Regions from separate parts of the Homo sapiens genome. Here regions 1 and 2 are each reported to be linked to region 3. The links are microRNA targets in miRTarBase. Many come from high-throughput screens and were not tested one by one. Region 3 holds a microRNA gene; each other region holds the end of a gene's coding sequence. Distances are from middle to middle.
The links. Region 3 holds the annotated microRNA hsa-miR-214-3p (ACAGCAGGCACAGACAGGCAGU, at 4,736-4,757, opposite strand). A microRNA usually pairs through its seed, bases 2 to 8, with sites in the 3' UTR of a target mRNA and lowers its output. Matches are read on the target gene's strand: a 7mer-m8 pairs with bases 2 to 8, a 7mer-A1 pairs with bases 2 to 7 and ends in A, and an 8mer does both.

Region 1 (10,393 bases), not on the chromosome of region 3:
GCTGCCTGGATAGCAGCACGGAGAGAGAGCTGGGAGCCACAGCAAGGTGCAGACAGGCTGGAGCAAAGGCCTCCCCATGACCTCTGCCGCCTCCCTGTTACCCCTGTTCTATAGCTGGTCGTGCAGATCCACAAGGGAGCTGAACATTTCACAAGACACTCAGATGCGTTTGTCATCTGTCCTCAGAAGTTGAGTTTTGCTGCCAAATTAATGCCGCTAGAGACCCATGATGTAACCACTTATTTTCTTTTTTAAAAAAATTTAAAATGTATTTATTTTATTTAAGATGGAGTCTCATTATGTTGCCCAGGCTGGTCTTGAACTGGGCTGAAGCATTCCGCCCACCTCAGCCTCCTGTGTAGCTGGGACTATAGACACACGCCATGAGAGCACCACACACACGTGCCCACCACACCGCAGCCCAGCTCCCGGCGCCAGCCACCTGCACTCACTGCCACCATGCCTGGCCTACAGTCATTTATTTTCTAGGGGGCAGACAGTTAAGTGCACACATGTTGGAGGCCGTGCTCATGTTACCAAACTCCCTAGGCCTCACTTTCTCCACTTATAAAACAGAAATCGGAAAAACATCTGCCTTGTGGTGGTGTGTACAGACTTCACGTGACAAGGCGTGTGACACACTTCACCCTTGAAATTCCCTGAGATGAAGTATTCGCATGGTCACTATCACTGTCTATGCAAACAGGACAGGGTCCCAAAGCTGCTTCCACGAGCGTGCACACATTGGTGATTTTCAAGAATATATTTTATCTGACTTGCTTTCATGTTCTATCTCAAATTTTTTTCATGTAGGAGCTGAAAGATCTCCGAAAACAAAGTGAAATCATACCTCAGCTCATGTCAGAGTGCGAATATGTCTCTGAGAAGCTAGAGGTACGTGGGTTGGGGGCACAGCCATCCTGGCTCAGACAAGAAGGCACAAATGTCATGGTACTCATTTTCCTGCTTCCTATCACTTTCACACTGAGAATGCTGAAGGAGAGATTTTCTATTCACAAAAAGCTGGCAGTGACTGCACGCCAGATGGCACCGCATCCACCCCTGCCCCCGGGGCAGACTCAGCAACGTTTGTCTTTTGGTTTTGCAAGTTCTATGAAGGCCCCTGTGCATCACCACAGTGTAGACGACTGTTTCCTTGCAGATCCCTGGTGGGGGTGAGGAGCGGGGGGGCGGCCTGAGAGCCCAGGGTCAGGGTGTGGGGCCACTTCAGCCACTCCCCTGCCAGTGGCCTTGGGCACTGACCTTGGGCAGGCCTTCCTCCCTATCCTCAGATTTCTGATCACTAAAATGAGGATTTTCAGGGCTTCCTCCACCTCGGAGCGCCTCTTCCCTGCAGGTCCTCTGATATGCACACGGCGCTTCATGTAGTTACATGACCCTGGAATTGGTAACTGCTTCCTGTGCACATGTTCAGAAAGGTCTCTGTTTATTCCCTCAACATAAAGCTCTTATTTGATATGAAGAGTTAAAGGCTTATGGCTCATTTAAGGACTCACAGCTGTCCTGTCTTTGGGAACCTGCTTGTGATTTACCTAGATGTGCCTCTGTAGGCTTGTGGGGCCCAGCGCCACAGAACATCTCCATGGTAACAGCATCAGAGGGTGCACAGACTGGCTGTCCCTGAGTCATTGGCATGGCCAGTCCTTCCTCTCTGAGGGCCAGAGGCTGGCCTGGGGCTGAGGAGGCCACGCCTCTCTGTGGGACCAGGGGAACGAGCCACTCTCCCATCTGTTCTGTCTCTCAGGATGGAACTGAAATGTGGTCTCTGCTAGCCACTCAGACAGGGATTTCAGACTTTCCCTGCTGGGCCCTGTGTGAGGTCTCCCTCAGGCAGGACTCTGCGTTCTGCCTGCTTTGTTGGGTCTTGGGTTTTCAGGCTGGGTGTTGGTCCCTCTGTGGGAGAGCAGGCAGGAAAGGAGGAGGTCACTGAAGTGCCTGCTGCTTCCCTTCTGATGTCTTGGTCACAGGCTTGTGTGCTGGGGTAGCATGTCTCTAGGCAGCTTAAGCCCTGGCCCAGGCCCTCAGATTGGATGGAGAATGGTTGGTTCAGCTGTAGCAGGTTTTGAAGGATGACTCTCGTCACTCAGTTTTCTAGACCCTTCTCCCTTTTGCTTGGCCAGGCGGCAGAGAGAGACAATCAAAACCTGGAAGACAAAGTGCGTTCCTTAAAGACAGACATTGAGGAGAGCAAATACCGACAGCGCCACCTGAAGGTGGAGTTGAAGAGCTTCCTGGAGGTGCTGGACGGGAAGATTGACGACCTGCATGACTTCCGCCGAGGGCTCTCCAAGCTGGGCACCGATAACTAGGGCTGGCCGAGGCCCAGGCCCCGCCCGTGAGTCCCAAGCGTGTGTGCGAGACCAGATAGCTCTAGGACGTTCTTCTGTGTGCATTGCTTCTGTAAATGCAGGCGCAGTTTGTCGTGTTTCCAAACCAGTTGTGCCGTCCACTCACTCCTTTTCAGAATAGAAATCTCCTCTCGCTTCTCTGGCCTTGTGAGGTTGTGGACAACTGGAAGATTCTGACTCAGGAATCCAGAACTAGGTCTACCTTCAACATTTATGCAGTCAGGGCAGGGATGTTTATATCTTTCATAAGGGCTGTTGCAACCATATGAACTGAAAAAACACGCATTTTGTAATCCAAATATTGATATTCTTTACACCAAGCCATCAGGCTCCTTTTATCAAATAGCATTCAGAGTATTTGAATGTCCACCAGACACCAGCCCCGGGGGGCACAGAGAGAACAACATTCCTCTCTGTCAACATCGAGAGGCTTTAAAACAACTGTTTAGTGGAAACTTTCTGAGAGATGGAAAACAAGCTTCTGGTGGGTGCATTTTCTGGCCCGGAGTTGCCTGCATCCACGCTACTGCCCCCTGCCCCCCGCCCCCCCAGTTTGTACGGTTGCAACAGTGTTCCTTTTCTTGGTTTTAATTTCTGAGCAGATGATTGTGCTGTGGGAACAGCACACAGTGAGGGTGCCTAGCACAATGTCTGGCACAAAGTAGGTGCTTAATAAATATTTGTTCAATTAAATGTGTACACAGAATTTAGTGTTTTAATCAAACCCCACAGCAGAGCTGGGACCCTGTCGAATGATGCACCATCTTTGCTGTGCTGGGTAGTTAACAGACATGAATACCACTGTCTGGTCAAACCCAAGCTGGGGCTCGGGTGGCCCTGGGGCAGGGAGGGAGAAGGGGAAGCAGCAGGAGCTGGTCTCAGGCCCCTGGAGCCCATCCGTGATGCTCTGCCCCTGGGGCTCTCCAGACCCTCGAATCACCTTCTCCCCTAGGAATGGTGACCCAGGGATTCCAGGTATAGGGGCTGCCCAGGGCTTGGTACCTAGGGTAGGATTGTCTTATGGGTCTGGACAGCTGGGAAGAAATCACAGGCATTTCGGGGGGAGAGAGCAGCTCAGCTGACAAGCCTTGGCCCTCATGACAGAGGTGTTCCACCCAGCTCTGCGTCCTGCCTTTTTCAGTTTCTCCTAGGGAAGGGACTGCAGCCATAAACCTCTCCTCTCTCACAGAGCTGCTCAGTGGGGCCAGCGGGCCTGTGGGTGCTGTTGGCATCCTGCCCTGGGAGATTGCCCGTGTGTGGCAATAATGGCTTGAATCCCTGGCCCCACACATCTCTAAATGCCTTGAGCAGGGGGGAGGCTTTGGTGCCCCCTCACCCCTTTGAGAACCACCTAAGAGGACTACTCCTTCTAGAAACCTTCTCCCATGGACGTGGTTAGACTTTCTCCCTGCTGAATTTGGATTAATGAGCAAACAACCCGAGGAAGGAGGGAGATGGGGTCCGAACCCAGGTGCCCTGGGCCCCAAGGTGAACACGAGTCCTCCTGCTCTCCTTCCCTTCCCCTCACGGAGACGCCTCTCTGAGCTGGGGAGTCTTGTTTGGGATGTGGATGGAAGGGAAGGCTGGGCATCTGGAGCACCAAGGCACTTTTAGAGGAGCTCCCGCAAGGTGAGTGGGGGCTTTGGTTGAGTACATAGGGCTTTTGGCAGACAGGAAGTGGAAAGCGTGGCCAGCCATCTTTGTGATTCGGGGTAGTCTGCTGCTGGCCCTTCCCTTTCCCCAGAGCTCCAGACGGCTCTCAGGACAGTTGGTAGCAGCTCCCTCCTGGCTGCACCAGGAGACCAGAGAGCCGAGCTGGCTATGAGTCAGCCCCGTGGCCCAGCAGCGGGATAAGGGGATTCTCAAGCCAGCCTGGTCTGCCCAGCAGCAGGCTGGGTGTGTGGCTGCCTGGGAGCAGTGGACACTGGGTTCCAAACACCTTCCGCTGGGGTCTTCAGATGACCTCTGCCTTTATCAGGTGACTTATGAATCTAGAAAGAGCCCGCTTGACTGACAAGAGAATGCTCAGGTGACATGCATAGAATAGTTACTGAAGCCACTTGTACATTCTGATAGCAGTGACTTTAGAAAACTCCAGAAGTGGAGGTGTAGAAAATGTTGGAAGAGCCATTTCCACAGTGGGCTGCTGTGCAGTTGAGACCCATGATCCCAGTTCACCAAGCACTGAAGAGTGTGGTGAGCATCCTGTGGGCAGCAGGTGAGGAACTTGGATTCCTCCTGCTGTGTGTCCAGCTCTACAGCTGTTGCAACCCTGGAGCTAAGAGTAGTAAGGACTCCCTTAAAGGGAAAGGTAAGTTGGGCTTGGCCGTGAAAGCACAACAGCTTTTACAAAAGCACTGAACTTTCCATTCCTTCTGCTTTTCTCTGAAGATCTCAGTGTCTTTTCATTTACTTTCTTTTAAAATAGTGGCCCTGGAGCAACCTGGACGGTGTTCCCTTGAGCTGGTGTGACGTGCCCTCGTTTATTCTGACATCCAGCCCAGTCTCAGTACTGTTGTCATAACCTTACGCCAGACTCAGGCAGAATGTAAGCCATTCACTCGTGAGCATCGCAGCCGCTTGTGCTGCCTGGAAGCTGCAGGGCCAGGACTGCATTTTCAGTTTGCAATTGAGGTCTCCTGATTTTGGTGTTTCCAAGACTGGCTGCTATACCTTGATAAGCTTTCCTTCTGCCTCCATGAAACCTGGTGTCTAAAAAAGATCAACTAAAACTTGGAACCCTTTAACCAAGAGGACCTTTAAAAATAACCTTTCATTCCAGTCAAGACCCAGCTGGATGCATTTTAAAGTTGGGAGTGGCGAGGAAGCCTTCCTAGTGCCGCCCGGGGAATGTAAAACCACCAGAGCAACAGGTTGGGACAGTATGGTCAGGCCTTGGAGGGAAAGAGAACCAGTATCCACACAAGACCTCGAACTTGTGTGGCCCCTCAGTTTCATCTCTCCTGCCTGCCATCACATTAGACTTTAATTGGGTGAGAGAACAGGGCAGAGACTGTCACCTGCATTTTGCAGATGGGAAGTAGAGACAGAGAAAGTGACACGCCCAGGGTCACCCAGCGGTGACCAGCAGCGTGGACTCTGCATCCAGGTCTCCTGGACCTTGATGCAGTATCTTTTGAGACATGCCACTCTAGTCCCTTTGGTGACCCGTGGGTGCCAAGAGAAAATAATTCTTATATCCTGATAAGAGCATATTACAATTATATTATTTCAATATGTGTCCACAGCAAAGGACAGTTTACAAAAATGTGAATCCGAATGACATTTAGGAATGTTTGTTATAAATGATAAGTTCCACTTTGGAATGATTCTGGTTTTGCAGGAATCTTTCCAAGAAAGTTGGTTAAAATGATGTCTCTGCCTGTGAGGCCAGTTCTATGGAAAACAAACACACCCTGAGTTCTTTATTGATGGCTTTAGTGGAGGCAGAGCAGTATGTTCAAAACAAGTGGGAGGCCCTGAGATCGCAGGAATGGAAACAGAGTTCTGGCTGGGGGTGGCCTGTCCACTGCCCGCCCCTTCCTGGAGATGCACTCCTTTCTGGCTTTCTGGGGAGGGAGCAGCCTTGCTCAGTGGTGGGAGCAGCTTGAACGGGACCTGATCAACACCCAGGAAGACTGTGCACAGAGGGCAGTTGGTCTCCAGCCTGCAGGCTCCATGAGCACAGCCTTGATGGTGGTGGGCAGGCGCCTGCCTGCTGTGGACTACATTTGATGCAAAACATCAAGTAAAGGGTGGAGCGTAATACAGTGAATATGCCTCCCAGAAACATCATGCTCTGCCTATTTTAACAGGGCTCTTTTTCTTTAGAAAAGTCTCCTTCTCTATAGAAACCAGGGACAATTTTGGATGAGAGCCAACCACAGGACGCGCTGGGGACGTTATGGTGGGACCTCACATGTGGCCAGGTGCACCTTTGGGAAGAAGGCAGACGTGATGTGACTTAGCACAGGCACTCAAAAGAGGCAGCCACTGGTCTTTGCTAATATCCAGAAGTGGATTGTTTGTTCCATTCATCCTTCTAGAAGCTAAATTCTTTCATTGCCTTGAGACATCACTAGATTTTGAAGCACTTGCAAACTAGAAGCTTGCAAGATCAATGTCCATGTATATTTTTAAAGATATGCATGCTTTAAAAGGACCCTAATTTCTGAGTACATGGCTTCCCCAAAGAAACAGTATATATTCTGGAGATGATGGGGGTTTTGGCATGGAGAGGGACTCCTGTCTAGTCTAGAAAATGTTACTTACATGCCTCTTCCATGTACCGATCTCAAGAATATGGGTTTTCTAGTTGGCTTTAAACACTACCCAGGCAGGAAGGTGGCTTTGGTAAGAATTTTGAGCTGGATGAAATGTTCTAGTGAACTTACGACTGTGTATGTGCGCACGCGTGTGTGTGTGTGTGTGTGTGTGTGTGTGTGTGTGTGTGTGTGAAGAAACAGCAAAAGGGGAAGTGGGAGAAACAGTAAGGAAGCGTTTTTAATTAAAAATATGTATACCTAAGAGGAGACTTTATTTTCTATTTCTGGTGGTGGTGATCTATGTTCTGGAATCCATTTACCAGAAGTTTGTGGATCTTTTGTTTGAAGTGGAATTGTTCAGTGCCCTACTCTCTTTGACGGTGCAGAGCCTTGCGGCAAAGTGTTCTCCTGGGCCCTAGAGACCCCCAGGGCACCTGGCAGGAGCCCGTAAACCACGGCAGAGTCCCAAGTGGTGCATGTTTTGGCGAGTGATGGGCAGGACTGATGATTCACAGCTGTGAGGCTGTGCTATTGTTTTTACCCTCTTGTACTGCTTTTAATAGGAAGTCCCGACTTTACGTCAGTTGTGAGAGCAGCGTCTTATGATGTGACAGGCAAGAAGACATTCCTTGCATCAAATATAAGAGTTTAATGAGAAGAGTGGAGTGGATAAGTGAACTCTCCCAAGAGTACTGTTTTTTGTTTCCCTTTTTAAATGCTTTCTTGGTACATAAATAATATAATACTTTTTTTAAAGAAATTCCAGATGAGTGGGAAAAAAACCAATCACCTGTTATTACACTATCTGATTATAACCACTGTTAACATTTCAGTTTTTATCTTTTCAGACTTTTTTCTATGCATCTGTGTGTGTTTTATTACTTTTTCCATGAAATATAATCATATTATACATACTGTTTTATAACTTTTATCCCTTTTAATGCTATATTGTGAATAGATTTCTATATCAGTAAATATGTAATTACATTATTTTTAACCTCTATGTAGGTTGTACCTTGGATACTTAGGTTGTTTCCAATTTTTTTACTGTTGTAGTCAAGGACATAATGAAGTTCTTCTAACATCCTTGCGAACTTTTCAGAATATTGACTTAGGGTAATTTTCTGAAGTTATCACTGGCTCAAAAGTACGCGCCTCCCTATCTGCGGCTCCTTTCCTTCTGAGGCATACAGGACTTCACCCTCCATCCCCCTTGTACTCATTCAGGGTCCTATGACTAATTCTGGCCAATGAAATGTGAGCACAGGTGACACATGAAGCTCCAGACAGACACTGAAATGCCCATGAGCAGTTCCGCAGTGTCTGCCTTCCCTTCCCTCAGCAAATGCTGATGTCCCAGGGACAGAGCCTCTGTCAAGCCTGGATCCCTGAGTGACTACGTGGAGCAGCCCCCTTCTCCCTTCATGTTACCCTCACCTGCCACCCTGCATGGACGGGTAGCATGAATAAAAAAAATAAACCTTAGGTGTTAAACACTGGGGTTTCAGGGTTAATTGGTTAACTGCAGCATAACATATCCTGTTGCAACAATAAAAAAGAATGCACATTTTTAGGACTTGTAATATGTATTGCCTCAAATTGCCTTCCAGAAAGACAGACCCAATTATACTCCCACCCACAGTGTGTGAGTGTGTACTGCTTCCTCTTTAACACTGGAGTTACCCTGGGGACAGAGAGCTAAAAAAAATATTTTTTTGGTTAAAATGTAACCCTTTAAGGTGTTCAGCAGTATCATTGATTTCTAAGAGGTTTATTTCATAAACATTGTAAAACAAAATTTTAAGTTGCACGTATGGCTTTTTAAAAACGTTTAGACATTTAAAAAAACACCTTTTAGTCAAGTTTATCTGTTACTTTTTTTTTTTTTTTTAATGGTTGCTACCTATGCCGTCATGCTTATGCAGGTCTTTCCAATTCTTTTTTTTTTTTTTTTTTTTTTTTTTTTTTGAGACGGGGTCCACCCTGGCCCCCAGGCTGGAGTGCAGTGGCGTGATCTCAGCTCACTGCAACCTGCGCCTCCCGGGTTCAAGCGATTCTCATGTGTCAACCTCCCTCCTGAGTAGCTGGGACTACAAGTGTATGCCACCACGCCCAGGTAACTTTTTGTTTTTAGTAGAGATGGGTTTCGCCATGTTGCCTAGGCTGGTCTCGAACTCCTGAACTCAGGCAATCCACACGCCTTGGCCTCCCAAAGTGCTGGAATTACAGGTGTGAGCCACCAAGCCCGGCGAGGTCTTCCCAATTCTGATGGCAAGGTTGTATAAATATTCACCACTATCTTATTCTTGTACTTTTATTATTTCTTTCTAAACAGTTAAATCTGTGATCTGGCTGGGCGTGTTGGCTCTTGCCTGTAATCCCAACACTTTGGGTCGCCAAGGTGGAAGGATCACTTGAGTCCAGGCATTTGAGGTTACAGTGAGCTTTGATGGCACCGGTGCACTCCAGCCTGGGGAACAGAGCAAGACCCTGTCTCTAAAAAAAATTTTAAAAACCTCTGATCTATCTGGAATGTATTTTCTAAATTACCCCAACACTGTTTATTGGGAAGTCTGTCCTTTATTCTATATGAAATCCCATTTTTGCCATACACCTAGTAGCCCTTCTGTTGGGTGCCAGGATAAGCACCCTGGCCTTGAGTGTGCTGTGAACTCTTTATTATGGGTTGTGATCTTCCTGCACATTCTAGCACTGGTACCACATTGTTTGGATCGCCATAGCTTTGGACTAAACTTCCCCATTAAACTTTTTCAAAACTTGCCTAGTATATTGTGCAGGCCGGGCATGGTGGCTCACGCCTGTAATCCCAGCACTTTGGGAGGCCAAGGTGGATGGATCACCTGAGATCAGGAGTTCGAGACCAGCCTGGATAACATGGCGAAACCCCATCTCTACTAAAAATACAAAAAAAAAAAAAAAAAAAAAAAATTAGCTGGCTGTGGTGATAGGAACCTGTAATCTCAGCTACTTGGGAGGCTGAGGCAGTGAACCCAGGAGGCAGAGGTTGCAGTGAGCTGAGATAGCACCAGCCTGGGCAACGGAGCGAGACTCTGTCTCAAAAAAACAAAAAACAAAACAAAAAAAAAACCTTCCAAAAGAAGTTTGAGATAATTTTATGTTTAGAAAAATTAGAAATTGGATTGAGTAAAATTTACATATTTTACACAAGAGGACTAACATCTTTATAATATTTAACCTTTCAGTAAATTTATGTTTTATGTTTCTCAGCCTATCTTTTCTAGTATAGGTGATTTTTTTAGTGTGGTTACTATTGTAAATGAGATCCTACTACTTTAAAAAATGAAAATTAAATCTATCGCTTTTATGACTTTAAAACATTAGACTTATGTAAGTGTAAACATTATTTAAAAACATAATGTAGAAAATTAAAGTCCCCCATAATTAAAATCCCTTTCCCCCAGAAAAAGTCAACAGCATATTCATCAGTTTTTTCCTAAAGTATGTTTTAGCACTTTGACCATATGAGACAACCCTTCTGCTGTTAGCATTTTTCTCTTTGCAATAGATCTTCCTATGTCAGTACACATCAATCTACCTCATTCTTACCTCTGCATAAGAGAGTAGTGTGTAGTTGTATAATAGTTTAACTTGGCGATTGGTTATTGATTTTGTAACTAGCCAGTTACTGAATTATTCTAAAGGTTTTGCTGTTGTTAATTTCTTTCGCCTTTTTCAGTTGGGTAATAGTTCTGGGTAGGTTGATAATTTTATTCCCAT
Region 2 (10,393 bases), 8.8 Mb from region 3:
CATGATATACTGGGTAAAAGGAACTGTGGTAAATAGACCTTTACCATAGATGGGGTGGTGAGGCCGGGGGGTGGCATTTTCTAGTCCTGTGATTAGGTCTTAGCCTCTGGTGAGCCTGTGCCCCTGGCCCGTGAACTTCACTAGTGCTTCCCAGTTTTTCTACTGTTAGGTGGAACTGGATGGCTAGAGAAGACTGGAGTTGGGTATTTTCCTTCCCCCAGGTTAGTCAGACTCTGGTTAGTTTCTTTTGAGGGCAGACTTTGTTTAGAACAGAGTGCTCTGGAGTATTTCGTAGTGATTCTTTTTCCCCTCCGCCTGCTGGAAGCATGAGGGGATTTTTCCCAATATTCGCTGAGAACCTGGTCAAGCTCCTGGAGGTAAAACCCACAGAAGTGTGGGGGTCCCCTTCGCCTGGGTCCACCTGGAGTGTTTTTGTTTGTTTGTTTTTCATCTCAGACTTGTCCACACTGAGCCTTCAGCGACTCATCAATTAAAGCTAAGGTTTTCCTACCAGAACACTGGTTCCTATGGAGTTTGTTGCTTCGTGGGTTTCTGCTCTGATAAGCTGTGATTCTCTGTATGCATCTGTAGGTTTCTGCAGTTTTAGGGGCAGCAGTTTACCATGTGACCTCACTTCTCTGATGGATCTAAGAAGAGTTTTGCTTTTTCAGTTTGTTCAGCTTTTTACTTGTTACGACAGAGTGATGACTTCTAAGCTTCTTACATACTTGGCTGGAAATTAAAAATTTAACATTTTTAATCAGATGAGAGAATGCCAGTTATAAAAGTTTTCTTGACCATTGAAGTAATAGTTAAACAGGTCAAAGTGTGACCTGCAGTAGGCCATCTCTGCCTTCCCTAGACCTTTGGAACAGTCCTACCTGAGAACAACGAGTGATGGACCTGGGGTCTTTGTCCTGCTCAGAGTTAACTAAATGAGTTTCTAGTATGTCTGAGGTAGACCAAGGTGATCACCACTTAGAAGGTACTTGCTTTACTTATAATTTGGTGGCAGTTCTCTTGTCCAGTTCTAAGACTTTGATATCCATAATATTTAAAATAATTTTAAGTACATGTTTTGCCTTGTGGAGAGTTTAGCAGTTTATTTTCATAGATTGAGATCTTTTTGCAACGTGATTCTCAATAACTATAGTGTGCTAAAATCAGTGGGCTTTCAAAGAAACTTTAGTGAATCAATATGTCTTTATATTTCTATTTAAATGGAACTCTTATTCCTAGTGGTTGTACTGCATTTTCATACGCTAGTGAATTCTGTTATCAGTCGGGCCCTTTGTGGAAGATGCCAAAACTCATCAGTGGAAGGACTGCTCATTTTTTCTACATGTCTCCAAATTAAGGAAGCATCCTGATGTTGACAGCATCCTCTGTGCCCTAGGTTTGGGTATTGCACAGTGTGTGTATGACAGGGTTGTGTTGTTTAATTCTCACAACAGCCCTGCGGGGCAGCTGTTGTAGAGTTGGGACCACAGGATTGTGAGCTGCAGCAGGGCTCCCCCAGGGCCTGTCTGGGCCCTTCTGTCTCACAGGGCCTCCCTGCTCTCAGCCATTTGGATGGACTCTAGTCAAGTTGTTTCCTGTGCCTGCTGTTCCAAATTGTTGGTAGGGCAGAAAGTTTCAGAAAAAAAATTCCACTTTCATTTACAGAGGAGCTGTACAAGGTACTTTAACACAGTTACTAGTTAAGTAATCTTACTTGACTAGGTGTGGTGTGAAATTAATCATGCTGTCTCACTGGAGCTTGCTTTTTCAGCTGTATATTTCCTGAAGTGACCAGCAGTAGCTTTCATCTCCTTTCCCTCCTCCCGTTGTGCTCATTGAGAAAAGAATGTGATTATTGTTTAATTAAATGACTTGACTTTTATGGGAGATTAAAGCAGGCAGGCTTTGATCTGTAACACCATTGCCAACACCTTTTTTGAGGATATGCTAACTACCAGCAGAAAGCTAAGATCCGCAGATTTTAATTAAAGACTTGAGACACAAAGCATGTAATTATTACGAGACATTTTCAGGGGACTGGCAAAGTTGTGACTGCATGCGAAGTGCAGGCCAAGAACAGAGCAGCATTAGAGCATCAGGCACCTAGGCAGGTGTAAGATCATGGCCCCGTCATTTGCACGTTCTGCCCCTTTTCTGCTTCAAAGGGTGCCATAAATTCCATATAACTGTATCTTGGGGAATGTGGAGTCCCTGTGAGAGCTAATCCCCATGTCCTGCCTTCCAGATCGGCGCCAATGGTGTGCCATAGCCATCCTCTTTGCAGTCCTGTTGGTTGTGCTCATCCTCTTCTTAGTGCTGTGACGGCGGGGCCTCTGGGTGCGAGTTCCTCCTGCATATGAACCGAGGGGAGGAGGAGAAGCTGAGCACGTGTGACATTGCCGTCTACTCACATTCCTATCCTGGAAACATACTGCTGCACTGACTTTTCTCCGTGTGACCCCACAATTGACATGGCTCCTCCATCCCAGCGCTGGAAGGGCCAGTGGGAAGAGGAAATAGATGTCTGCACTCCTGGCTGCAGCTGGACAACAGAAGCCCCATGCCGCCTGTCCAGTTCGGAGGAGAACTAGCTGCTGCCTTGCCTTCCGGGACCTCGTTTGCTGAGGAGGGACTTACAGACTCCACTGGTGTTTTGCTGTTGCTCATTCCATGCATCTTTGGCAGCTCTTTTCTTCTGCTCAGACCCTTCCCCGTGCTCAGACAGTGCACCGCTGTCCCATCTAAAGAAACCTGTCAGGAATACGAGCTTCTGGGTATGTTTCGTTTCCCATTGCTGTAGCATTTCTTATCCCCTGAGAGCTGATGATTATTGAGGACAGAAGGCTCAGAAACAGTTTGTGACAGAAAATGCAGTGTTTCATTTTTCAGGGATAAATGCTAAGATAAAATTGCTTTTCCAGGTCATTTTTTTTTGTGGTAAGAATAACTAATGGAAAATAATGAAACACCCTGGGGTTTGGGGGTGCTAACAACTTGTGGCTTTAACTGACAGGAGCAATTAAAAAGAGCAAGAGGGTTCTGCATTGGCATAGCTTAGGGAAGGGTTAATGATGTCGCCACAGGTCAGCTCCTGATCCTTGCCGACTTGATGTTGCTGTACCAGGGCTTCCTCCCCAGAGGTGCAGCTTGCGTTTTGAGGGTGATTGCTACATATGTTGTTGCTAAACAGCTCAGTAACACACTTGAATGAATTTGGATACCAGATTGTCCTCATTACAGTTCTTTTACTCTTAGGGCACTCTACACTGGGGGTTGGGGTTGGGAGTGGTTAGTACATTTATTACATTTATTAAGAAACGTAATGACATAAAAGGTTAGCTCTGGGCCAGACTTCTCTTACTCTGTGGGTAATGGCAAGGATGTGTAGGTAAACTTGGTTCTTTTTTTTCCCTAAGATGACAGCTTGATTTTATCATCTGCAGTCAAATAACTGAGCCAATCCAAATTTAAATGATAGATGCTTTAATTGAGTTTAAGTAGCTGAAACTGCTGAGACACTAAACTTTAACCTTCTGATGACTTTTTAAAATGCCTCAAATGTGCACATGTATATAGGATATTTTTATAACTTCCCTGATGAATAATCTGATATTAAAGTAGTATTTGGACCCAGAGCCAGAACTCGGTGGTGGAGGCTGCTGGTCTCTCCTCACCACCTTCTTTTGCACTTGGAAAGAACAGCAACATCTGGATAGAGTTCTAGCTTTGACTTCTCATTTCCTTGTCTTTTTGGGTGCATTCCTCAGCACACTTTTTTTTTAAACCTTTTTGTTTTGTTTTGTTTGTATTTCATGTGGTTTTATTTGGGGGTTTTGGTTTTTTCACCCTTTTTTGTGATTTGCAATGATGTGCTTGCCCAGCTAACTTTTGAATTGCACTTTTTAATAAATATTCTTAACAATTTTTGAAGAAGGATATTTTATCTCATTTGAGATCATGGTAGGTTAAGAAAATATGCCTGTTGATGAAAGCTAAAAGCAAATTTATGAAACTAAAAGGGTGATTGACATCCATGTTTACACTCCGCTCTAATGTTTGATATATAAATAAGTTATTTTCAAATTAGGAAAAAACAGTGAGTATTACAAAGGGCTTCAGATGTTTAGAGTACTAGGTTATTTATGTTTTACAAAGTTTGAATCTTCTATAAACTAAGAAAGGGGATGATCCTTAGATTTGCATTAAAATATAGAAGTCTTTTAAAGTAAATGTGAACCTTGTCTAAGTACTGTAATCCACACAACACATTATAAGAAGCAAACCAGCATCTTAAGGAATTATAAAATTACCCTATTTAAAAGCCATGCTATTGTTCTGCTATTACCAGATTTATTGTGCCACACAAAAGGATCATGTGTGTCAGCAGGGGCCGTTTGGAACAAACCTAGTCATTAATGAGTAAGATACTCCTGTTAGTTCAGGGACCAAGTTTTATGACCCAGAGGCTTAATGATGTTTGGATATATTTCAAATCGGCGTGCTTACCTCACTGATTTAAATTATTTTCTAAATAGTGGCCATTGTAGACCTGACTCAGGCTGAAGCTAAATAGAGAACAATTTAGAAAGTTAACTAACAATACAGTGCATTCTACCCGTAGGGCCACCATGCCCTTCTGCCCCTGGCTGATTTGATCCTGTGTCTGATCCCATTGCACCCTGACTGGGCAGTCCCTACAGAACCAGTGTTAATTTGAAGGGCCTCCACTCAGGCTCCAAATGTGGCAGCCAAAGAGAACAATCCAGGGAACCTACATTTATTTTTAAGGACAAATATTTCCTCCTCAGTGGTCCTAATGTTCAGGGCTTTAGAGGGAACCCAGGTGGTCTCTTCACCCTGTGTCCTAGAATGGGAGAGTAAGTAGACAGTGGTGATAACCCCACACTGCTTATAAGTGCATCTTTATAGTATTTGGGGCTTTCCTACCCCTTTAGCCTTCTGTACCTAGTACCATATTCCAGTTTTAAAGAACTGGCAGAATGTGATGGATAACAGAGGAAGAGCTCAATTTATGTTTATTGGAAGAACATTTTACTTAAATGATTTGAGGGGTGGGAGGGAGTGAACTACTGAGTTTGCCAGAGTGAAAATCCATCTGAAAAACTCAGCTACCTTTAGTTTTTAGTCCTCATTTTTGGTCTTGTCTCTGCGGACTGTGAAGAATCACAATGCTCTATATGCCCTGGACTGTGTGGCAAATGCAGGTTGCAGCGTGTGTGTTACATGAGGATCTTCCACAATTTCAGAATGCACGCCAGAGCTGAAGGGGGAAACTTGGTAACTTGCCCATTATTCTCTGCTTTTAGCCAGAGTTAAACAGACTGATGGGTCTGGTAGCCAACAACTTGGCAACTTCCACTCCTTCTCACCTCGTGAGATTAAGGGCTGTGAAAAGAAATCTAGTCTAACTCCAACAGAAATCTGTCTCTGTTAAGTGTTTTACCTTCTGTAAGTAGAGATGGTAGAGCCAAGATTTTTCTTTTGGTAATTTCCCTGTCTATAAAGTGAGACCAAAGGGATATCTGTTCCCTGTTACCTTTTTGGAGAATTCATAACATTTGAAGATCAAAAAATTGAATGATAAATATGAATGGCTTTTCAATTCTGTGGACTTTGTACCATTTGGCTTCACCTTGTACTGCAAGATGAATTTGTAAACAAAACAAAATTGGACTGTCTGGAAAGCTAAAGTTCTGAAATATGGAATGTACTGCCTCTAATTTTTCTTTGTCTTCCTCTCACTGGCATTTTTTTCTCTCCCAGGTTTCTTAAGAATAATGTTTTTTAAAGGAGGCTTTTTGCCCATCAAGAATAAAAAGAAATAAAACCAAAGGGTTACCGGACTTAAGCCCCCGCAGTCACTGTGCGCCATCCCTGAGCAAAGTCCGCCCCTGAGGACAGTGCCCCTGCCCCAGTGACAGGCCTTACTCCTCCCAGGGCCTTTGCTTCTAATAGGGGGTGGTCTTTCTTTTCTTTCTCTCCTTTTTTTTTTTTTGATTAAAAAATAAAACCAAACCAGAATTTGCTGAAAGCAGGTACCTTTCAGTAGCTCCGATCAGAGTAACTCAGCTTAGAGATACTGTTACTCAGGACAACAGTATGTACAAAAGTCTCCGGAAAAGGAAAATAAAACAACCTGAAAAGAATTCAACTTGAAAAGGACTGAATTACTAGAATGATCATATAGCAGAATAACACAAAATGCAACAAAGAGCCACCCAAGCCTGAGGGTAAGACCTCTACTTCCCAGATTCTTGGATCATAGCCCATGACTTCTTGGGGCACAGAGGCTGGCTTCAGCATGAGGATCTCACCACTAACTGCATGTAACTCATCCATGCCTTGGGCAGAGGCTAAACACACGGAACAAGGCCACCAGACAGGTACACATGAACCCATGAGAGCGGTGCTCTCTGTAGAGTCTATAGACCTGGCAGGGACCATGGATAGCTTAGAGGTACTTACTCTGCAGCTGGTCACATAAGACCCTAGACTGGCCAGGCGCGGTGTCTCACACCTGTAATCCCAGCACTTTGGGAGGCCGAGGCGGGCAGATCACGAGGTCAGGAGATCGAGACCATCCTGGCTAACACGGTGAACCCCATCTCTACTAAAAATACAAAAAATTAGCTGGGCGTGGTGGCGGGTGCCTGTAGTCCCAGCTACTCGGGAGGCTGAGGCAGGAGAATGGCGTGAACCTGGGAGGCAGAGCTTGCAGTGAGCCAAGATCGCGCCACTGCACTCCAGCCTGGGCGACAGAGCCAGACTCCGTCTCAAAAAAAAAAAAAGACCCTAGACTGACCTAAGCCCTACAGTTCCCTTATCCAAATTCCCACTAACCAGTGAGAGAGAGGGACAAGACTTGGAAGCTGCCTCCAAACCAATTTTTGGTCTACAGTAAACAAGGATAAACATAAAACACCATTCCACAGGCCAGCTTCAAAAGAACTAGTGTGCAAAGAAGGTGAGAGATCCCAAAGCCCCATTTAGTAACCCCCACCGAAGGAGGGGGATGGGTGTGGGTGGTGAGATGGCCTGTTCTGCTGCTGTGGGCACCCCTGTGACCTGTCCTGCTCTGCCATCCGGCCTTAATTCGTACAGTTACCCCCGCTTCCTAGATGTGCACTCTCATGGCCCAGAGCTCTCACCTTTCTGAGCCTGAGCCTCCCGGCCTCCAGCGTACACAGAGTGGAAATGCCAGATCCTAAGGGTTCTCTGAGGAGGGTGAGGTGGCAGTTTTTCTGAGAACCTGGGGTCCTTCCATGCCACAACAGTTGTAGGTGGGGCAGGCCAAAGAGGATGCTGAGTTACTGGAGGCAGAGAGCAGTCGGTCAAAGAGCAGGGAGGAGAATACAGCTGGGAAAATGATGAGAAGTTTCCATTGCATGGACTCAGCAAGCAATTTCTGGGGTCACCTCAGTTATGAGGCGTGAACAGCAAAGCTTTAAAACTGATGTGAGAACAGTGTGTCTCCCTTTTTCCAAATTCCCCAGAGGAACACTACTCCCTGCTCTGGAACTTCACATCAAAGAAACAATACACCTGATGGGAAGAAGTCTTTTCAGGACCCCAGAAGTGCCCATTGGAGGCCCATCAGAAAAGTCTGGCTGCTTCTCGTTTGTGGGTCCGCACATTTTGGGCAAGATGGCTAGAGGGCTGGAGGTTTCCCAAGGCCTCTAGATGCAGTTGTGCAAAATCAATCCTCCACAAATCACTGGCCCTTGGTAGTATGCTCGTTCCACCACCCACTGGAAGTGAGGAAGATCTTTTTGCTGTCAGAGAGGGCTGTCCTTCACTAACACCATAAATCTGCTCCCTGGCTGCTGGAGTGCACAGGCCAAGGGGGTCTTGAAGATCCTCGTGTCAAACTTGAGTGTCAGGCTTGCAGTTGGTTTCACCGTAGATAACCCTTGTTGCCCTACAGCTTGGGTAACTGTTATTGTGTCTTGACCTTTTGCTCTTCCTCTTCCTTGTCTGAACTGCGTTCCCTTCTTAGATAAAGGACAACTTTTATGTTTATTTTCTTCGTCCACTGTCATGTCACCCACTTGCACAGGAGTCCCACCTTATCTGCGGTTTCACTTTCTGAGGTTTCAGAAATGGGTTGCACTGGAAAGCACTGTGCCTATACAAAGATTTCAGCAAGGGAGTTCCTATGTATATAAGGGAAGAAACAGTTTATCTAGTCAGTACAATCTGTGGTTTCAAGCATCCACTGTGGGTCTTGGAATGTATCCCTGCAAAAAGGCGGTGGGGCAGGGGGCACTTCTGTATACTTCAAAACGTGCACGATGAAAACATAGTGTTATCTGTCAATCTGAAAACAAAATCGCCATGACTTCTGGGCACTGTAGTCCTACCTGTGGACTGGCTGCCTGACTGTGGAGCGTCCTTGTATTGGACACTGAGGGACTAAGATGGCGACTTCTCATTTGGCAGCCTGTGGCAGCTGAGTTTGAATTTGGTGGTGGCCGTCGCATGTTAGGGTAGCCATAGAGCTGCTCGCTGTCAGCCGGAGCAGCAAGCACAGTTTCACTTGACCCATTTTACACCTGTTGTCTCCACCCAAGCACCATGGCTCCAGTTAGGAAGGGCAACCGTTGGGTGGCCAAGAACAACTTGTTACGGAGCCAGAAGCTGACCTCCTTTCTTAAGGATTTCAGCTGTGAAGTGCAAATACTATGGAAGCCAATTCAGTCAGGCAGAACCTCTCCCAGAAGATTGATAAGATGCATGACCAGGCCACTCAGCGGCTTCCTGAGGCACAGTGTGACATGAACTGGTAATGCACAGACTGTGCATTCGTAGCTGTTTCGTGAGTAATATGCAGAGTGTGTGTCTTGGGTATTTTAAAGTACGTGAGAGGGTTGTTTCAGCAGCTGATGGGATGCCAAATGTTTGACTTTTTATTATTCCAGCCCTTCAGATTTCCCCAGAATTGTCACCTTGTAGAGCGTGTGTCTTCCCAGTGTGTTCCAGGAATTCTCTATACCACTGTCGTGTTGCTCAGAAAACAATAGAGCTCTCAGTCAGTTCAGGTAACCTTAGAATCTGCGCTGATGCCTCAGAAAGGAAGAAAGGCCAGGACGGCCTCGGGGGTGGCACTCTTATTTCTCCCTTGGTTTCACTTCCTTTTCCATTTTTTGTGGCTTCCCACTTCATCCCGCAGCCTCCTCTCATAGGCTGTCCCCCCTTACCCCCACTCCATTCTTCCCACTCTCTAGCCCATTTGTGTCCTCAGAGGTCTGGCTGCTGCCACTGCACCTGCCTCAGACCCAGTGTCACCTCGCCAGGGCTTCAGCCAGCCTGGCCTTCCAGCTGCCACCCAGCAGCGCAGCAACTCAGAACCTTCTGGCCCAGACCTTCATACCCAACTCCCGCCCAGGGCAAATACAGAAGCCTCTGCTGGTGCAGCCAACACGGAGTGGGGAAAAAGGGGAGAGGAAAAGCAGCAGCTTCCTGTGCTTCCCAGCTCAGGGCATTGGTAAGAGTGGATGGAATTTGGCATTCTGCTTCTACCATTTTGAATGAATTGGCCTATTCTTTTATACCATCACCCCTCCCTTCCAAATCATTCATTCTGGTGTGCAGCCCATTTCTGTCTATTTTCTAATGAAATGACCAGAGCCACCATGTAAGCTTGTGCCCTGCACAAGGATAGATACCCCACTGGGGAACAAACGGGACCAAAATCCACTCTGTGTTCTGCTGGCCAAGCCGGGTGACCTGGCCTGGGCTGGCGTCCTCCCAGAAGAAGGGTTCATTTTTCCAGTTTGCACACATGTGCTATTTGTGGGTTAGCTGAGGCCCTGCTCATGTCTTCGGTTGGTTCACAAATCAGAAACAGAACAAATGGCCAGAGATTAGTGTTGTAATCAAACTAGATTTACAACCAAGGCACGCTGAGTGGCATTATGGGTTTTATCCTGCGGCATGGCAAGCCGCTCATGCACAGGCTGTGCTCAGTGTCCTTTTTCCTCAGCCATGCCAGCCATGGGGAAGCAGGAGGGGAGCTTGTTGGAGAAGGCGGCCTCAGTGAGAGCCTTGGTGCATTCCCCTGAAGCCACAGTTGGGGGCTTCTCCTTCAGCAGGGGTCCCCATAGTCTGAGTGTTTTCAGAAATCTTAGGTCCAAGGGACCCCCAATTTTTTTTTGTTTGTTTTTTTGTTTTTGAGGTTGAGTCTCACTCTGTCGCCCAGGCTGGAGTGCAATGGTGCGATCTCGGCTCACTGCAACCTCTGCCTCCCGGGCTCAAGTGATACTTGTGCTTCAGCCTTCTCCCTAGTAGCTGGGACTACAGGTGCATGCCACCAAGCCCGGCTAATTTTTGTATTTTTAGTAGAGACGAGGTTTTACCATGTTGGCCAGGCTGT
Region 3 (10,393 bases):
AGAAGGGAGACCAGATTGGAAACTCTGACCATGGTCCAGGCAAGAGAGGATGGTGGCTGGGTAGTAGCTGGTGGTGAGGGTGCGGAGCACTTAAGTTCAAGGTAGCAAAATTATGGGCTACACACAGCTATGATTGAGTCACTAGCTTCTGTTACTCATTCAGAACTCTCAAGAAACAAGACAGGAAGTTCTCATCATTAAGATCATCATTGAGACTGAAAGCTGGCCTTCGTGAATTTAAGCAGGTATAATGACTAGGGGGAATGCTACTTGCAACCACAACTCAAACTCAATGATGATCTTAATGAGGAGGATCATCACCATAATGGCTAATAGTTATTGAGTATTTATAGTTCACTGAGCACATTATTTACATTCTCCATTTTAGAGATAAAGAATTGAGGCTCAAAAGAGAGTGAGTAACTTAGCCAGGTGCTAAGTGTCAGTGCTGTGCTCTTAATCATCTGAACATTTCCCAACAATTACTTTCTGAACACTTGTTATGTACCAGGCACTGTCCTAATCACTAAGGATAAAATGATTAGCAAGGAATTCATGGTACCTATTCTTATGAAGGCTCTTTCCCAATAAAGCAAACATACAAATAAATAGGAAAACCTAGCAGATGCTGATTACAGGCTAGGAAGAAAATAAAGCCAGTGATGAGTTGACATAGAGTGTCTGGGATAGAGGACACAGGTAGGGGGTACTTTACATTGGATGGTCAGAGAAGGTTTGTGTTAATGTTCTGAGGCAGGATTGAGCCTGATGAATTTAAGGAGGGTAATTAAGTCCAGTGTGACTGGAGCAAAAAGAGAAAGGCACTCTAAAGATGAGGATTTTGATATTAAGAATGATGAGAAGTTTTTTAAGCTGGAGAGTCACATGATAAGATTTGAATTCTTTACTGATTCCTTTGGTTGCCTTGTGGAGAATGGATTGGAAGAGGGCGAAACTGGACTGGGGAGTTACTAGAAAGCTATTGCTTTCTACATCTATTGTGGTCTGCATAGATAATGGTAGCTTGGGCTGGGATGAGTTGTTGGAATTTGATAAAAATGAACGGATTTAAGAGATGTTTTTGGAAGGTGAAAATTGACATGAACAACTCATCACACATGCTAAGAGTTGCAGCAAACTGTAAGCCTCTTGAGACCAGGAGACATTGTTTGTTCCCTGTCCTACCACCAGGGGACATAGCACTGATAGGAGACACTAACTAAATATTGATTGAATGAAGGTGTCATTGAGCAAATGAATGAATAAATGCAGCATAATAATTAATCACGTCCTGGCATATCAAGTGTCAAAATTAAATTATTGAATTACAGAATAAAATTACCACTAAAGGTAGATTGTCTTAAATTGTCTTAAATTTTGTTAATTTTCATCATTGAAGGTTAGTGTTTTTTTGTTTTTGTTTTTGTTTTTTGTTTGTTTGTTTGTTTTTTATCCTCTGACTATATATATGTGACTTCCTGGATTGAAAATCATTTAAACAGAAAATTAATTTCCCAATGTTGTTTTCATACATTGCCCATATATGTTGTACATTTTTGGAAAGGGATTTAGTAAAAAGCAAGATGTGAGAATAAAACAGAAACTGTCATTTCAAAAGTTTTTTGAAATGGATTTTTGATCTAGATAATTTTACATTAATACTTTAAAATCAGACTTGAAAAAAATGATGGCTTTTCTTTAACTTATGTCTAAAATGTGAATTTTAGGAGAATGGGAGACCCTGATTCAAGGAGAAAAGAGCCTTATTTTTCTTAAAACCAATGAGAAATTTGTTTTAAAAATACATAAATATGTAAATTTTAAGAGATAATTCAAATCTCTGAAGAAAGAGGACTGTTAATTTATGTATAATAAAAGCACTTAGTCAATATTTATTCTATTTCTATAGCCCAGTGTGTAAAGATTTAAATCATAATGAGCTACTCCTAGGCAAGCAGAATAATGCAACATAGGCGTTTCCAGTGGAAATCTGCTAACCTTATACTATTGAGGAAAACCCAACATCTGCATTGAAATAAGGACATTCTTTGGACTCTTAAGAAATTACAGGCCTCATTTTTGTGGGTTGAAGTGTTTGGATAACTTGATAAGGAGATTATATAATTCCCTTATAGGGATATTTACTTAGCATTGTTTTCATTTTGTAACAATAACAAATGACAAATGTAACTTCAGAAATAGGAAACAAAATGACAGTTATATCCCTGGATGATCAAAGTTGTGAGATCAAGAAGTTATAGAAATATTCAGCTCTCTTTCTAGTTTCACTTATACTTTTAAGATTGTGCATATTTCCTACCAGATCTGCACACTCCCTGTGGTGGAAAAGGTCAGCGTCGACCCTGTGAACACTGTTCACACTCCTTCGTTAAGTTATTTAGTTAGCCAAAACTTAGATATTTTCACAAAAGTCCCAGTAAATATTGAACTCTAATCCACTTATATTACTTAAAATTCTGCATGATCACAGTTGTATATTTTTTTACATACATAAACTATCTGATGTTATTCTTTTTTAATATAGGATTATTCATACAAATATTTCCATGTTCTGGTATTATCTAAAGATTTATAATTTTGAAAAAAAGAGTATTATTCAATAAACCATAATGGCCAATCCTATTCCAAATTTATTAAAAATGAGTTTAGATTCAAACCCACTCCCCTATATGCATTATTTGTCCCACTCAAAAGTTTATCCTGGAAGAGCAATATTATCCTTTATATTACCCTTTCCCAGAAGAGAAAAATTTTTAAATGTGCCTCATTTAATGACTTTAAAATACATACAAAACATTCTTTCAAGCATTTTTTTTGAAAATTGAGTAAAAAATGTTTAACAAAAAAGGTGTTAACTTTATGTTTTAAGGAAAAATATTGAAAATGTTATCCTGGAGTGCCTCACCTTAGGATGACTCTGCTGCCGTCCTAGCTTTCCCTTTGGAGTCTGAAGGACGGGTGTAGTCTCCTTAATGTTCTGGCTAGGTCATTGTCTCATTCTGGGAGCTGTCAAGCACTCTCCTGAGCCTTGCAGGGTCCAGTAGAATAATTCCATACGTGAACTCTCATAGGCAGCATTTGCAACAGGTGGTACAAGGCATTTAAGATTGGGTAGAACGATGTCGATATTCTGTGAGTAATTTTTATATTGTCTTCCTGTTTATATTCTACATTTTGTAAGTATTGTTTAGGACTTTATTTGCTAGTAATGGGACTTTTATTTAAGGCAAAAATCTGCATCGTGCAATGTATCTTGCAGAAGCAGAGATGAATTTTAGCAGATGACATATTGCCATAAGACAAGATTGTTTAAATGAGAGAAATTTAACTTTAATCATATTTGTGCTTTGTAGTTTTGCCCCATCATTCAGTTTTTTAATTAAAGAAACTATAATGTCAGGTTTGGTTAAAATATCATTGTCAGAAAATTTGAAACTCACTGGGATCTTAGCTTTAAGACTGAGACTTTCATTTTAAAAATAAAATAGCTGAATGAAAAATAGTTTGCTTTAGTTAAGAATACATACATAAAGTGTTTAATTGTTAAATGTGAAAAAAGTTTTGAGTAGCCTTGTGTTACATTTTTTAAGCTTGACCAGAATCTAAGAAAGATGAAAATTAATTTCAAATACTGAAGCTAAAACATGTTAATGAACTAAATAAAAGTTGACACATTTCTAATTTTATCCATCTTCCCACCTTTTACCCTTAAGTATTTAAAGTATTCATAGACAAAAGCCATCCCTTATCATTTCACTCCAGTTAACAGTGCATAAACTGAAGTTTGGATATTTTCTCAAAAGATGTGTCAAAATATACATTTCAAGTGCATTAACCACTTTCCTTATGCTTCTGAAGATAAATGAATTGCCTGAACATCTCAAGATCTTGAAAGTTTATAGTGATGGAAGCATAGGTTGCAAGTGAATGTGTTGGCCTTGTAAATTCTACTCCTAGAACTGTAGCATAAGCACCTTCTTAATTAAAGAATGACGCAGTCATAAATTTATGTATACCATGACGCGTGGAAGTATCAAAAATTTCAACTTTCCATATGTCAAAAGAGGAGAAACTATTATTTTAATATAGTTGAACACTAGTTGGAAATAGTAGTCTTTTCACTGTGTTTTGCCCAGACCCAGACTGGCAGAGTTAACCCAGACTGGCAGAGTTAACTCAAAGCACTTGATCCTTTGGAATACTCTTTTTCTCCCTTTTCTTTTCTCTGTCTTTCCACCCTATCCCCTTCCAAAAAAAAAAAAAAAAAAAAAAAATCATGACATAGAAAACCATACTTAGTTTATGGACAAGAATTCTTAGAATAATTTATTCTTTGTTAAGCATCAGACTGAAGTTATATTGTTTTGTTATATTGAGTTTTTATATCAATATAGGGTGCTGCAAAGCTGTGTACAATAAAGGTCAAGGGTAGTGATTTGCTGACAACAATTAGGAAAAGAGAACTATAGAATGCACAGGAACATTTTCAGAAATGGGTTTTATTATATTTCATAGGCACCACTCACTTTACTTTTGGTGGGTTTTAATACTTGAATCAAAATAAAATAATACATGAGTTAAGTATTAAACCAACAGATTAAAACCCCAGGCCCCCGAGCCCCTCATTTTGGTTGTAGCTCTTGGTGTAGATGCTATGGTGTGAGGGCTGCTTTCTTTCAATGGCTGGTTGTCATTCAGGCTGGGTTGTCATGTGACTGCCTGTCTGTGCCTGCTGTACAGGTGAGCGGATGTTCTGCACAGCAAGTGTAGACAGGCAGACACATGACAACTCTGTCCAGCCAGGCCCTTGGTTCCTTCAGGTTTCCTTTGCTCATAGACAGATACAATCAGCCTGTTTTCCAGATTTGGTGATTTTGGAGAGTAAGGGGAAAGGGAGAAAAATACACAATATAATTAAACATTAAAACATTATGGAACTAAAAACAAGTTAGACTTTTGACTTTATTCAGAAAGTACATTTATACATTTGTTCCAAATGTGCTAACATGGATAATTTGCGTAACAGAAAACTCACATTAAAATTTTAAGGAAAAAAAGAGATTAAACACAAGGTTTATTCTTAAGTCCAATTCATATTATTACTGGCCCACATGTAGTCAGAGTTCAGCGTAATTGAACCAGATGTTTTTCCTCTTTGCAAAAAACTGCATATTTTAATACTGAAGTTAAAGATAAAAACTATGTTTATGCATGTTTCTTTTAGTAGATAAGTACCATAACCTTGTCCATGAAAAAGAAAATTATCATTTACATGGAAACAGCAGCCCTTTTCAAAATAATTAATGAGCCTAATTTATTTGGCAACCCAAGTTGCTGACTTTGGTATTTGATGCTCTGATAATAGGATCCTACAAGGGAATATGTTTTTACCAATTATATGTGAAACAACAGGAACCTATTTAAATGTCTCATTTTCCTTTTAAATGCAAAGTTTATAACTGTGGATGTGAAATCAAATTAAAGGCAGTTGTGAGCTTAAGTTATCCACCTCTTAATTAACTATAGGGCCATGCTGTGAATCAAAAGGGTACAAACTGGAAGGCTGTTACTCACAGTGATGCTCAGAATGTGTTTTGGATATAGTTAGTGCAATATAGTTACAAAATAGTACTTAAGAAAAGGCAGAAAAGGCAAATTCATTTCATATCCAAAAAATTAAAACCAGATCCTTTGAAAATTTTTCTTATAATTTATATGAGCTAATAGTGTTAAATATGCAGATATAAAATTTAATTCTGGTGAGTTGAGAGTAATTCTATTTTAATATCAATTATCAATTCACATCTTTAGAAGTATTAAGCAAATTCCCCTCCCCTTTTAAAAACAAAAATATCCAAATAGTCAAAATTCCAGTAAGTAGGACTTCTTAAAAAACACAGCACCAAAAAAACACAGTATTGTCCAAGGATTGTATAATTAGACATTTTCTCAAAGAACTTTAAGAAAAACAAACAGTTTGTGATTTATCTTTAATTGTAAAATTCTGAGAAAATAGCAAATAGAAACTTAATGGAAAGCAAAATAGTTTTAGATACTGAGAAAATTACAATTTTCTACAAATCTGGACTTTTATGCAGTGATTAGGTAAGGTAATGTTTTAACAAAAGCTAATAAGTGCCATTTTCTGTGTATTTATGTAATTTCAAGAAAACAAATTTCCGATTCTGTTTCGGCCATCACTTTCGAGTAAAGGAACTTTTTTTTTTTCTTGACAGAATCAAAAACATGAGTAAACTTGGCTGTTATTTAAATAATTACAAGGTTAGAGTATGCCAAAAACCAGTGCCTTAAAATACTATTGTGTTATTGTTGCTGCATTCAGTGCAACAGAAAGTAATTATAGAGTGATTCACTTACAAAGAGTATATTGGTGGAAATTAAAAATTACTATAATTCTTTATAACTTTTCCTCTCTCTCCCATAAATAATTTGATCCAGTTAACTCTGCTCAATTAAAGGAATGATGCATGCAACCTGAAAAAATAAAAAGAAATATTTGTGAGTTTGTATGTTATGCTTTAATATAAAACAGTTTTATTAAGGCAAGATATAAAAATTTTTTGAGCCAGAAAAACCACAACAGTTTTTCAGGGGAAAAAAAAAATCTTGCTGAAAACAATTGTTCTATTCATAAGGCTTTTGGACAATTTATGTTTCTGATAGATTTTTAAAACACACTTACAGTAACTATGTGACATATGCACACTTCATTGTTATGTTGAACCTGCCCCTAAACTTGTTAAAAAGATGAAAGACTGAAAACCATATTGACCTTTTTTTAATCTCCCAAATTATAGGTTGAATATTAGTTTATTATTACTTAAAATACTAGCTAAAACATAAAAGAGCTATTTGTATTATTATCATACCATGTAATTTTTAGTGTGGTTATTACACCTTGTTTTCTTTTTGTCTTTTATTTCTTAAGGAAAAAAATGTAAGAAAAGAATTGTCTTCTAAGTCTTCTGTAGTGAAATTAAACCAAAGCAACTCCAGGAAACTGGCTGTCACGCTAAGTCAAAAAATTCAAAATGAAGATTTAATTATTTTTCCTAATTTACTTCGTTATCTCTAACTATTAAAACTGATAAAAATTATTTGTAAGAGACCTTTGAAAATGAGTAAATATTTATTTCTACTTAATTTACAGAACATGAAAGTAAGAAGGGATTTGAAGTAAGAAAGTTTCTATCTTAACTCAGGAATTTCCTGTCTCAGGTTAAAGCCTGACCTTCTAGTTATTTTAAGCCAGGATTTCTGAGTGATGGTCTCTTAGTTATTATTTTGACGTTATTGTGATGGGTGGGCTATTCTCCTTAGAGCAGAGTAAAGTGCATTGTTTATAAAGAGCAGATCCCTTACAGAGTAAGTGAAAGCTTTGGCGTCTCTTTACCGAGCATGGATGCTTGTGGATGAGTGAATTTTTTCACATTACCAAGTTGTACTTTTTATATCTTATAACAGCTTAAGACTTCAACCAAAAAAGTGGGGAGAATTCTTTCGTTAGGATTTTTATGCCTAAACTGTTTCCCACAGAGTGAAATACATGGGTGGTCTGTAGGCGAGAGGTGGGGGTAGATAGTATATTTTGGTCTTTTACAAACATAAACATATTATCTGGGCCGAAAGCCCGAATGCCAAGCAGGAAGGATATTAAGCCTATTGACTAACTACAGGAAAGTGATCAGTGTGAAACTTTGTCCTATAGTAAACAGTCTTTCTTTGATTTTGAGATCTGTGGCCTAAAAGAAAAATGAGTTTGAAAATTTAAGTCCACCGTTTTAGATTGATCCTTTTCCAGTTAAGAAATTGTGGTGTTGAAGCTAAGGCTCTGAACTTCCTTTCTCTTAGATGGTGGAAAAGTCCTTTTAACCCAGTACCTAGTCCAATTTATCAATCATTCACATGCTAAAATGAAAAATAATTATGAAATTTCTATGAAGTGTAGTTTGGACAGACCCTGAAACAATTTTCTCTTCATGACCACATATAATGTTTAATTTTAATACTTACACTTATTACATCCAGGGGTAGTTTTAGTTGAAGATGCTCACTGTTGGTTAGTTTCCTCTGGAATAGATTCCATGATCCCTAAAATATTTGTATATCTCCTTATAAAGTAATATGAAAATAAAATTAAACATTTTTCTAATTTACCTGGATATAGATATGGCTATAATGTATATAAATGTGGGCGTGTGTACCAGCGCATAAACTACAATCCTGCCTTCATTCAGCAGAGCTTTATAAAATGAGCTTTTACCTTTGATCTTTAATTTAGCCCATATAATTGAAAAATAAGTACTATTCGTTTTCATTTGTTAAAACTTTGCCTCGAAAATAAGTCGCTAGAGCCACATCAAGCATGTGCAGGAACTCCTTGGTTATCCTTTTACAAAGTAATTCTTATATTTCTACTCCTGTACTTATGCCAGAGGCACCCTTATGTCCCTTCTATCTCCAGACTAAAAGTCATCCTGAGGGAGAAAATAGGTGAGGGACCCATAGGGATTCATTTCTTTGAAACAAAAAGACCGTTTAACATGAAGAAAGAAATTGAAATTAAATATACATTAAATGAAAGCAAATTTTGAAATGTAATCATTTCTAGAGTAAAAAAAAAAAAAAAACCCAGAAAATTTGAGAAAAACATTACCAAAGTACCTTGTTAGCTATTTTTCCTCTTCAGTAATTGTATCAATTAGAAAAAATATATTTCTTGAAAAAATGAGCTCCTCTAAGTTACTTTTTTTAGTTTTCTTATGTAAAAGAAACTATATAGATTTTTAACATCTCATTTGTTCTACTAAAAATAATTAATATGGAACTCTCCAAGTCACAATAGAAAATGAAAGGATAACTTTACTATATCATCTAAGTGAAAGTAGCTAAATTTCTCCTTGCTGTTTATATTTTAACTAATAATCATGAATATATGAGAATACTTAATGTTTTCTTTATACACATTTTGGGGTGATCAGAAGGGTAATTTTTAAAGTAAGTTGTTTTGACAAAAGAAAACTTAGGGAATCTTTTATAATAAAATATTTTGCTAAAGAGAACTTGAGTCAATTTTTGAATTGTTGCAAAATGTATAACTTAGAAAAGAATTTGTTCAGGAACCACTGTAACTTTAAAGGAGGACAAAAGAGATTATGTTTATTTTTCACAAACCCTGTAGAAGAGATGTTTTCATTATATAGAATTGTTTCGGAATAGAAATTAATGGGGGTTAAGAAAATTAGGGATGAGGCAATAACATTTTTCCAGAACTTTCTTTAAGGGGCCGACCTCTAAAGTTCAGCACAGATCACATTGCAATCCAGACTTGCTCTATTATTTTCTCTATTAGGATTTCATTCAGCTTGAGGGTTTTCTTCCCTCCCACCTTCCTCCCCCTCTCCCACCCTCTTTCACCTCCAGGACAGCTGGAAACTGACCAAAGAAAACTTCTGCCTTCGTTTACAAATTCCTTTTTTATCAGTGGGTTTCTAGACAAAGTGCCTTATTTTAAATGCTCAGAGAAGTGGAAGCATTGTAAGCTATAGGCAAGAGGGCTCAGCTGAGCAGCAATTATTAACCACTCTTTGATTTAAAAAAAATGTAAAACAGATATTTACAGGGGTATCTAAAGATAGAGGTTTTTATTCCCTGATTTACTCAGTTGCTGACTCAATAAGTTGTGGGTCGGTGCTCTTCTCTGGGCAAATCCCATCTGCATTGTCTGGTAGGCAAGACTTGGCAGGTTCTTCTTTTATTGTTAGGTACTATTATTCCTGTTGTTTATATTACAGAAGGAAATCTTCAGAAAAGCACTATCCATATAGCATTTAAAAACCAGCAAGTATTCTTTACTTTGGGGAAAAATGACTTCAGTCCTGGGATGTTAAAAGTTATACATACAGCCTTCATCCATATAAGTTTTTAAATCTTTGAATTATTATTAAACAATTCAAAAGTAGCCTCATTAAACTATTCTTAAGTGTCTGGAATGAGTTTTTTCATATTTCATTTTGAAGTGGGAAAACCTTTAAGAAAACACTTGAATTATCAATCTTCAGAAATAAAAAAAAAAAAAACAGTAAATCGCTATATACCACACACTTTTGCTCTTTTAAAATTAAATACATCTCTACCCATCACACATGTACCTCTGTTTCCCTTGCATGTTAACACAAATCATGGGCTCCCCACCTAGGTTCCCTTGGTCACAGACCAGGTGAGCAGTCAAGAAGGCCTTACCCGCTGGTCTTCCCTTCGGCAGTCTTTTCTCAGCAGTGTCCCCGAGGGCTTCTTGGTCCCTAGTGTGCAAAACCTGTGAAGAAAAACACTGGATATGAGATTCAAAAAA

Region 1: the mRNA of HOMER2 is a reported target of hsa-miR-214-3p. The part of its 3' UTR that is shown has no 7-base or 8-base seed match.
Region 2: the mRNA of STX6 is a reported target of hsa-miR-214-3p. Seed matches in the 3' UTR shown: 7mer-A1 at 3,508-3,514.

What each region holds. Positions count from the first base shown.
Region 1 is chr15:82,841,652-82,852,044 of GRCh38, reverse strand. HOMER2 (homer scaffold protein 2) reads left to right here. Exons shown (of 9, transcript NM_004839.4): 8 at 814-894; 9 at 2,142-3,062. The coding sequence ends at 2,330. Among named protein-coding and RNA genes, the nearest start is that of WHAMM, 37 kb to the right of the region's middle. RefSeq lists an enhancer at 1,469-2,244.
Region 2 is chr1:180,968,499-180,978,891 of GRCh38, reverse strand. It overlaps STX6 (syntaxin 6), which reads left to right. Exons shown (of 8, transcript NM_005819.6): 8 at 2,246-6,167. The coding sequence ends at 2,322. It also overlaps the pseudogene MR1P1. Among named protein-coding and RNA genes, the nearest start is that of KIAA1614-AS1, 19 kb to the right of the region's middle.
Region 3 is chr1:172,134,081-172,144,473 of GRCh38, forward strand. MIR214 (microRNA 214) reads right to left here and starts at 4,827; the gene lies at 4,718-4,827. All of the region lies in intron 14 of DNM3 (dynamin 3), which reads left to right. It overlaps DNM3OS (DNM3 opposite strand/antisense RNA), which reads right to left. Exons shown (of 4, transcript NR_103486.1): 2 at 10,285-10,357; 3 at 8,056-8,133; 4 at 2,799-6,516. MIR3120 (microRNA 3120) reads left to right here and starts at 4,728; the gene lies at 4,728-4,808.